Linked DNA regions of Homo sapiens. The protein of the gene in region 2 interacts with the protein of the main gene of each other region in a biochemical or structural test. Each region holds a gene or a part of one and is shown on either strand. Other genes may lie near its edges.

Region 1 (3,500 bases), on a different chromosome or scaffold from region 2:
GGTCAGGAGATCGAGACCATCCTGACTAACATGGTGAAACCCCGTCTCTACTAAAAATACAAAAAATTAGCCAGGCGTGGTGGTGGGCGCCTGTAGTCCCAGCTACTCGGGAGGCTGAGACAGGAGAATGTTGTGAACCTGGGGGGCAGAGCTTGCAGTGAGCCAAGATCGCACCACTGCACTCCAGCCTGGGCAACAGAGTGAGACTGTCTCAAAAAAAAAAAAAAAAGTACTATGTTGAGTATATTGGAGAAAAACTGACTTCAAATTTTCACTTGAAAGTATATGGGCCAGGTGCAGTACCTTATGCCTCTAATCCCAGTACTTTTTGGGAGGCCAAAGTGAGAGAATCACTTGAACCCAGGAGTTCTAGACTAGCCCAGAGAAGTTGGTGAAAACGGTTGTGTACAGAAAATTAAAAATCAGCCAGATGTGTTGGCACGCCTCTGTAGTCCTAGCTCTCTGGGAGGTGGAGGAGGAGGATCACTTGAGCCCAGGAGATTGAGGCTGCGGTGGCTGTCATTACACCACTGTATTCCATCCTGGGAGACAGCAAGAAACCACTGTCTTGAAAAAAAAAAGTATATGGTCCTTCAAAAACTAGGCTTGCTAGTTTTTGTTGCAAATTATCAATATAGTATAAGGAAGGGGAAAGTAGTATGTAGTTTTTAAAGTTTTTAAAATTGGCTGGGCACAGTACTGTAATCCCAGCACTTTGGGAGGCTGAGGCGGGTGGATCACGAGGTCAGGAGATCGAGACCATCCTGGCTAACATGGTGAAACCCCGTCTCTACTAAAAATACAAAAAATTAGCCGGGAATGGTGGTGGGTGCCTGTAGTCCCAGTTTATTGGGAGGCTGAGGCAGGAGAACGATGTGAACCCAGAAGGCAGAGCTTGCACTGAGCAGAGATTGCGCCACTGTGCTCCAGCCTGGGTGACAGAGCGAGACTCCAAAAACACACACACAAAAAAAGTTTTTAAAATTAATTATTTGAGACGGAGTCTGGCTCTGTCACCCAGGCTGGAGTGCATGGGGACAGGTGTGCGCCACCACACCCAGCTAATTTTTTGTATTTGTTTTTTAGTGGAGACGGGGTTTCGTCATTTCAGGCTAAGTGATGGAAGAAGACCCCATCTCAAAAAAAAAAAAAAAAAAGTAAATGATTGCCTTTTTATATGCTGTAAGTAAGTTTCAATGGTAGTAGCAGAAATTGTGTGCCCTTTGTCCTATGCATAATAATTGTAGACTTTGCAGTTGATGTAATTTTGACCATACACCACTCATCTAAAAAATATTTATTGTAATAGAGACATACCACATTAACCTTGAAATGTTGGATGGTAGTTCGAAAGTTAGCTCCGGCAAAAAAAAATAAAAAAATAAAAATTCTCTCGTCCAACTGAAAGGCAGGTATAGATGTTTTTCTTGCTTGGAATTGGAGGTTTAAAAATACTTTTTGAGGCTGAGTGTGGTGGCTCACGCCTGTAATCCTAGCGCTTTGGGTGGCCGAAGTGGGCGGATCATGAGGTCAGAAGTTAAAGACCAGCCTGGCCAACATAGTGAAACCCCGTCTCTACTAAAAATACAAACAAAATTAGCCGGGCATGGTGGTTGCGCGCCTGTAGTCCCAGCTGCTAGGGAGGCTGAGGGAGGAGAATCGCTTGAACTCTGGAGGCGGAGGTTGCAGTGAGCTGAGATGATGCCATTGCACTCCAACCTGGGTGAAAAACAAGACTCTGTCTCAAAAAAAAAGAAAAAAAATTTTTTGAGAGTATTGGCTACTCAAAGTGATATTGAACATGTAATTGCCAAATAAAACTTTTACATTTAACTCACTAATTTATTCTTTTCTTGTTGTGTTACCCATTATTTTTCCTTGCTGTGAAGCTTCCTAGCTGATGTGTCTACTACTGGTTTGGGCTTTTGACATTCTTTACATTAATATGGATAATATTTCACTTTTTTTTTTTTTTTTTGGTAAAAAACACAGGAGATTTATCTTTGTGAGGTCGAGGCAGGGGCAGGTCACATGAGGTCAGGAGTTTGAGGCTAGCCTATCCAATGTGGTGAAACCCCGTCTCTACTAAAAATACAAAAGTAGTTGGGGGTAGTGGCTCATACCTGTAATCCCAGCTACTCTGGAGACTGAGGCAGGAGAATGACTTGAACCCGGGAGGCAGAGGTTGCAGTGAGCCGAGATTGCACCGCTGCACTCCAGCCTGGGTGACAAGACCGAAGCTCCGTCTCAAAGAAAAGAAAAAAAAAATTAACCGTCTTAACCATTTTTAAATGCACACACATATTTGTTTTTGTAAGCTCCTTTATAGCACAGAGCGTGTCTCAGACATCTATAAATTTCCCATAACGTAAGTACTTAGTAGGTACTAGGAAGTAAGCCAACATTTTCTCCTGCAAAAATTGTACTAGTTTTTGAATGCCTGTCTTTATCTTGCAGTATGTTCATGCGGATGCTCCTACCAATAAAACACTGGCTGGGCTGGTGGTGCAGCTTCTTCAGTTCCAGGAAGATGCCTTTGGGAAGCATGTCACCAACCCGGCCTTCACCAAACTCCCTGTAAGTACATCAGCTTACTGTTATTTGGGCATCCTCAGTTGCTGTATACTTTTAGGTGTAGCATCCAGCTTTTTTCCTTTGCTGCTGCTAGCGTGTAGAATTTAAAAAAAAAAAGCAAAAAACAAATTTTAGTTATAGAATATTACTATTTTTTAACTGTAGGAAGCTGCTTTTTGAAGAGGCATTTAACATTTGCATTAAATATTGCAGCAGTCATTGTGAAGACCTAACAATATTTTACTATGTTGCAGTTCCCTATCCTCTCGCCGTACCGAGTCTTCTCCATGCTTTCTCCTGATGCAGCTCTTATGCCATAAATAGAATTTATGGAATTTTTTATATTTTGTAGGTGAGATACCTTCTGAAGTTGTGTGAGAATATAATTTTGGTGTCCTTGCAATTGTGTGTTTTATTTTTGTTTTTACAGACAGGATCTTGTTCTGTTGCCCAGGCTGGAGTGCAGTGGTTTGATCACAGCGCACTGCAGCCTTGATCTCCCGGCTCTAGCCATCTTCCCACCTCAGGTTCCCAAGAGGCTGGGACTACTAGCATGTGCTACCACGCGCATATGGGTGACTTTTAAATTTCTGTAGTGATGGGATCTTGCTGTGTTGCCCAGGCTGGTCTCAAATTTTTGGCGGGAAGGCGATCCTTCTGCATTGGCCTCTGAAAGCTCTTTGATTACTGGTGCGAGCCACCACACCAGCCCTTCTCTGCTATCTTTATTTTATTTAATTAATTTATTTATGAGACAGAGTCTCGCTCTGTCACCCAGGCTAGAGTGCAGTGGTGTGATTTCGGCTCACTGCAACCTGCAGCGATTCTTGTGCCTCAAGACTCCCGAATAGCTAGGATTACAGGTGCGCGCCACCACACCCAGCTAATTTTTGTATTTTTAGTAGACACATGGTTTCACCATGTTG
Region 2 (3,500 bases):
CACTGGTCTATAAGGCTGCTGAACTCTACGCATGCATTTACCTCTGTACCATTAATTTACAAAGCACGATATGAAGCACAACTAGAATTCAAAATTACCTAGATCAAGATCTGGTCCTTCATCCATGGGTCCTGCCAACCAGGAAAGATCATATAAAATATTATTAGTGCACGTCTTGCAAGCTACAAACCTTACAAACACACATAGCTATCTACTATACCACCATTTGATGGGGATTCATTAAACTCAAAATGACCCGCACTGCTAAAATGGAGCAGTGTCTCTTTAACATTTGTGAAAGGTTTGCTAGGGTTTGCTTTTTTCCTTTGCTGGTTTGCTTCTAAACCATTAACCAAATACACTCTCAATGCTTATGTGCCAAATCAGTGTTAAATTTAAGTCAAAATTTTTCCTCTAAATAAACCAAATTTAAAAATTTATTCTCCCCCATATTACAGAAGCAGTTACTCAATACTTCAAGTTACCCTTTGTTTTGTAACCATAGGTTAACCTTATTAACCCCTAAGACAATGCCGGCAGTACCCATTAGTCTCTTTTGTATAGATCATTTTTAAACCACTTATGAAACTAATAAAAAAATTATAGTTTTCTAAAAACTGACTGCATTTTTTTTTAAACACTATCTATGGTAATACTCAAAAACTTACCACCAGGCTTATTGAAGCCACCTCGCTCTCCAGCGCTGCTGGGGGGATAAACGAAGAAATGAAGGCCTTTCCCTTTAAAAGCCAGTACCGCTCTGAGCCTTGGGGGGGCTCGTGGGGAAGAAGGGCACTGGCTAAACACATCTCCAAACAATGCATCTCTCTCATCTTGTCACTATGCCTTTCTTCAGGGCAGCTTGCTCAAATTTCCTCAATATACAACCTTGCTTGTCTGATTGTACACACCAGTGTGGTTGGTTCCTTTCATTTCGGGGGCTGGTATTAATAGTGCAATACTTGGCAAATTAGCAAGAAAAAATAGATCCCAAACACCCACCCCGTCAGGTGAAAAACCAGAAGAGCTTGGTATAGAGGGGAGGAGCAAGTGGGGGTTAACTGCTGTGATAAACCTTTCCATGTTCATAAAGGTGCACCCTCAACCTCTCCCAAGGGAGAGCCAAATGAGGCCCAGGGTTTCCTAACAAGTCACAGTATAATAAAAGCAGGAGACAACCACATTAAATTCCTACAACACACATCAGAGGACGCATCCAGCCAATCTTCAGCATAAAGCCATACATCTCAGGGCACGAATAGATTTAACAATCGCTGTGAAAGGAGAATTTACAACAAATACCAAGGCTCAACGGACTGGGGGTGCAACTTTATAGACATATCAGTTAGAATAATGACTATGGCCATGTAAAATTACTTAAAGAGGGGAGAGGGAAATATGAATTGGACTTTTTGGGTTAGATTTTGTTTTCTTTAAAATTAAATAAAGGCAGCTCCCCAGTGGGAGGCCCTGAGTTTTTTCTAACCAGTATTGCACCTTTAATACCTGAATATACAATTTCAAGCTGTTGCATGCAGCTTTGTTTCCTTTTTAAAAGTACACACCATAAAATGTTCTCTCTCTTTAAACACAAAAGTTTACACTTTAATGTTACACAATTCTAGAGTATTATACCTCCTCTGGTTCATTACCAAACAACAAGTATGCAGTTACCAAAGTTACAGAAGGATTCCATTTATACAATGAATACATTTTGTTAAAAATATTCTATGTATATTTTTCCTCTCCATATGGACACCGTGTCTAGTCCCACTTTTCATTATGCTGCCGGCTGAGTACTGAGTACGGGTACTTTTTAAGTATTGAAGTGTATACAAGGCTCTCACTTTGTAACCTGTAGCATATAAATGCGACAAAGCATGTTAAAAAGTTTCCACGTTTAACAGCCAATGAAAATATCAAAATACTGAGGCAATGAAAAAGGGCATGTTAACAACATTGAGTGCCTTACCTGTACAAGACACTGAAAACCATCACCACACCACAATAAAAAGGGGGGCAACGAGGGAAATGCCCGTCTATCCCCACAGGATCCGACAGACTGCTTCACAGTCTGTTGAAAAACCTATGGGGAAAGCCATGGTCTCTTCTATGGCTGCAAGAGAGACTTCTCATCCAGAAAGAGGGGCCCCCTCTACTAGCAAAGTCTAGCACAATTAGTAGGATTATAACTTCTGGAGTATTTAAATAAACTTGAAATTGTATTTGCAATTTAAAAATACTAGGAATTCTAGGTGATTTGAGACGTGATGATAGTACTTTCAAGTGTCTATGTCTATTTTAAAACATCCAAAAAGAAGTGAAACCTTTATAATAGAGTATTTTCCAAATCAGAAGATTGATTTTACTTCATACCGAATCATTAAATTTTTGCCTGTTGTCAAATGACTTTCTTCCAATAAAGATTTCACTAAAGACTTTCTTAAAGTTATGCAGAATATGCAAAATAGTACTGTCTTTCAGTAGTGAAGAGTATTTGCTAATATGGAAGTTAAAAATCAACTTTAATTTTGAAGTTCATTCTGTTTTTTAAAAAATGCTATTTAATTTTTCCTTGAATAGTGGCACACCGTATCAAATGTAAATATCTAACATTCTGCATAACTTTTTTTTTTCTTTACCAGTTTATATAGGGACAGAACACACACAGAACTAAGCCTTCTGGATTATGTTAACCACCAATATTATAGCTCACCTTCATCAAAGTACAGACACCAGATAGGGAAAAGGGGATGGGAGAAGGGAGGGGAAGGGCAGGCAGAGGCAGCAGGGTTATGTCATTGATCTAAACAAAGTTTTCTAAACCAGATTGTGCCATCAATCAAAATGGTCAAACCGATTTAGACTTTCAACATCTCCAGTAGGAAGTGAGCCCATAATTATATACATTACTCTGCAAAATGCTATTGGATTTTTCTTTGCTCCATCCAAACTCTATGTAATCAGGTGCACCTCAGGCTATAGTTTAAGGATTATGGGACCAAAATCTTCATATGTTCAACGATTCTGAGTACAAACAGAAGTTGGGGACAAACACTGTGGAAAACAGCTGCATTCCTTTTCTGCAGTATATACACCAGGTATTTCAAGACAACCATTCAAAGGCAGTTAGTTAACAACTTAGGGTCATTAGAAGGGTTGTGTGTGTTCCATCCCAAATCTACTACCCACAGAGGCTTCTCACCTCTGGAAACCATGAAGGGAACTGAAAGCTCTGGTTTCAAAACCATTCTTTGTTCTCCCCGACCCAACGAAGTATACTGGCAGGGAAAGAAAATAAACTGCCACTTAATATATGCCACAAAGATGACATTTCCATGTTTTAGAAGATGGCTTGAGCTCAACAGATTGTCCATGGAAATGCAGAAATTAATTTCTTATGTCTTTCAGTCCCTTCTTTCCACTGAAAATCCTATGGATGAAACAAAATTAGGTAAAAGGAGAAAAGGTTTGCTCTTACCCCATTCCACCGCGTCCTC

What was found. Proteins that work in one complex are often made in the same cells at the same time.
Region 1: the proteins of EWSR1 (region 2) and SMARCC1 form a complex in vitro, tested with the Homo sapiens proteins (one large-scale study listed by BioGRID).

What each region holds. Positions count from the first base shown.
Region 1 is NC_000003.12:47,771,894-47,775,393, reverse strand, and holds part of SMARCC1 (SWI/SNF complex subunit SMARCC1), read left to right. Parts: intron 1-2,457; coding exon 2,458-2,577; intron 2,578-3,500. UniProt on the Homo sapiens protein: Involved in transcriptional activation and repression of select genes by chromatin remodeling (alteration of DNA-nucleosome topology).
Region 2 is NC_000022.11:29,288,768-29,292,267, reverse strand, and holds part of EWSR1 (RNA-binding protein EWS), read right to left. Parts: coding exon 3,482-3,500; coding exon of another isoform or gene 3,478-3,481; intron 1,856-3,477; coding exon of another isoform or gene 1,765-1,855; exon of another isoform or gene 1,584-1,764; intron 707-1,583; coding exon 669-706; intron 132-668; coding exon 99-131; intron 1-98. UniProt on the Homo sapiens protein: Binds to ssRNA containing the consensus sequence 5'-AGGUAA-3'. Might normally function as a transcriptional repressor. EWS-fusion-proteins (EFPS) may play a role in the tumorigenic process.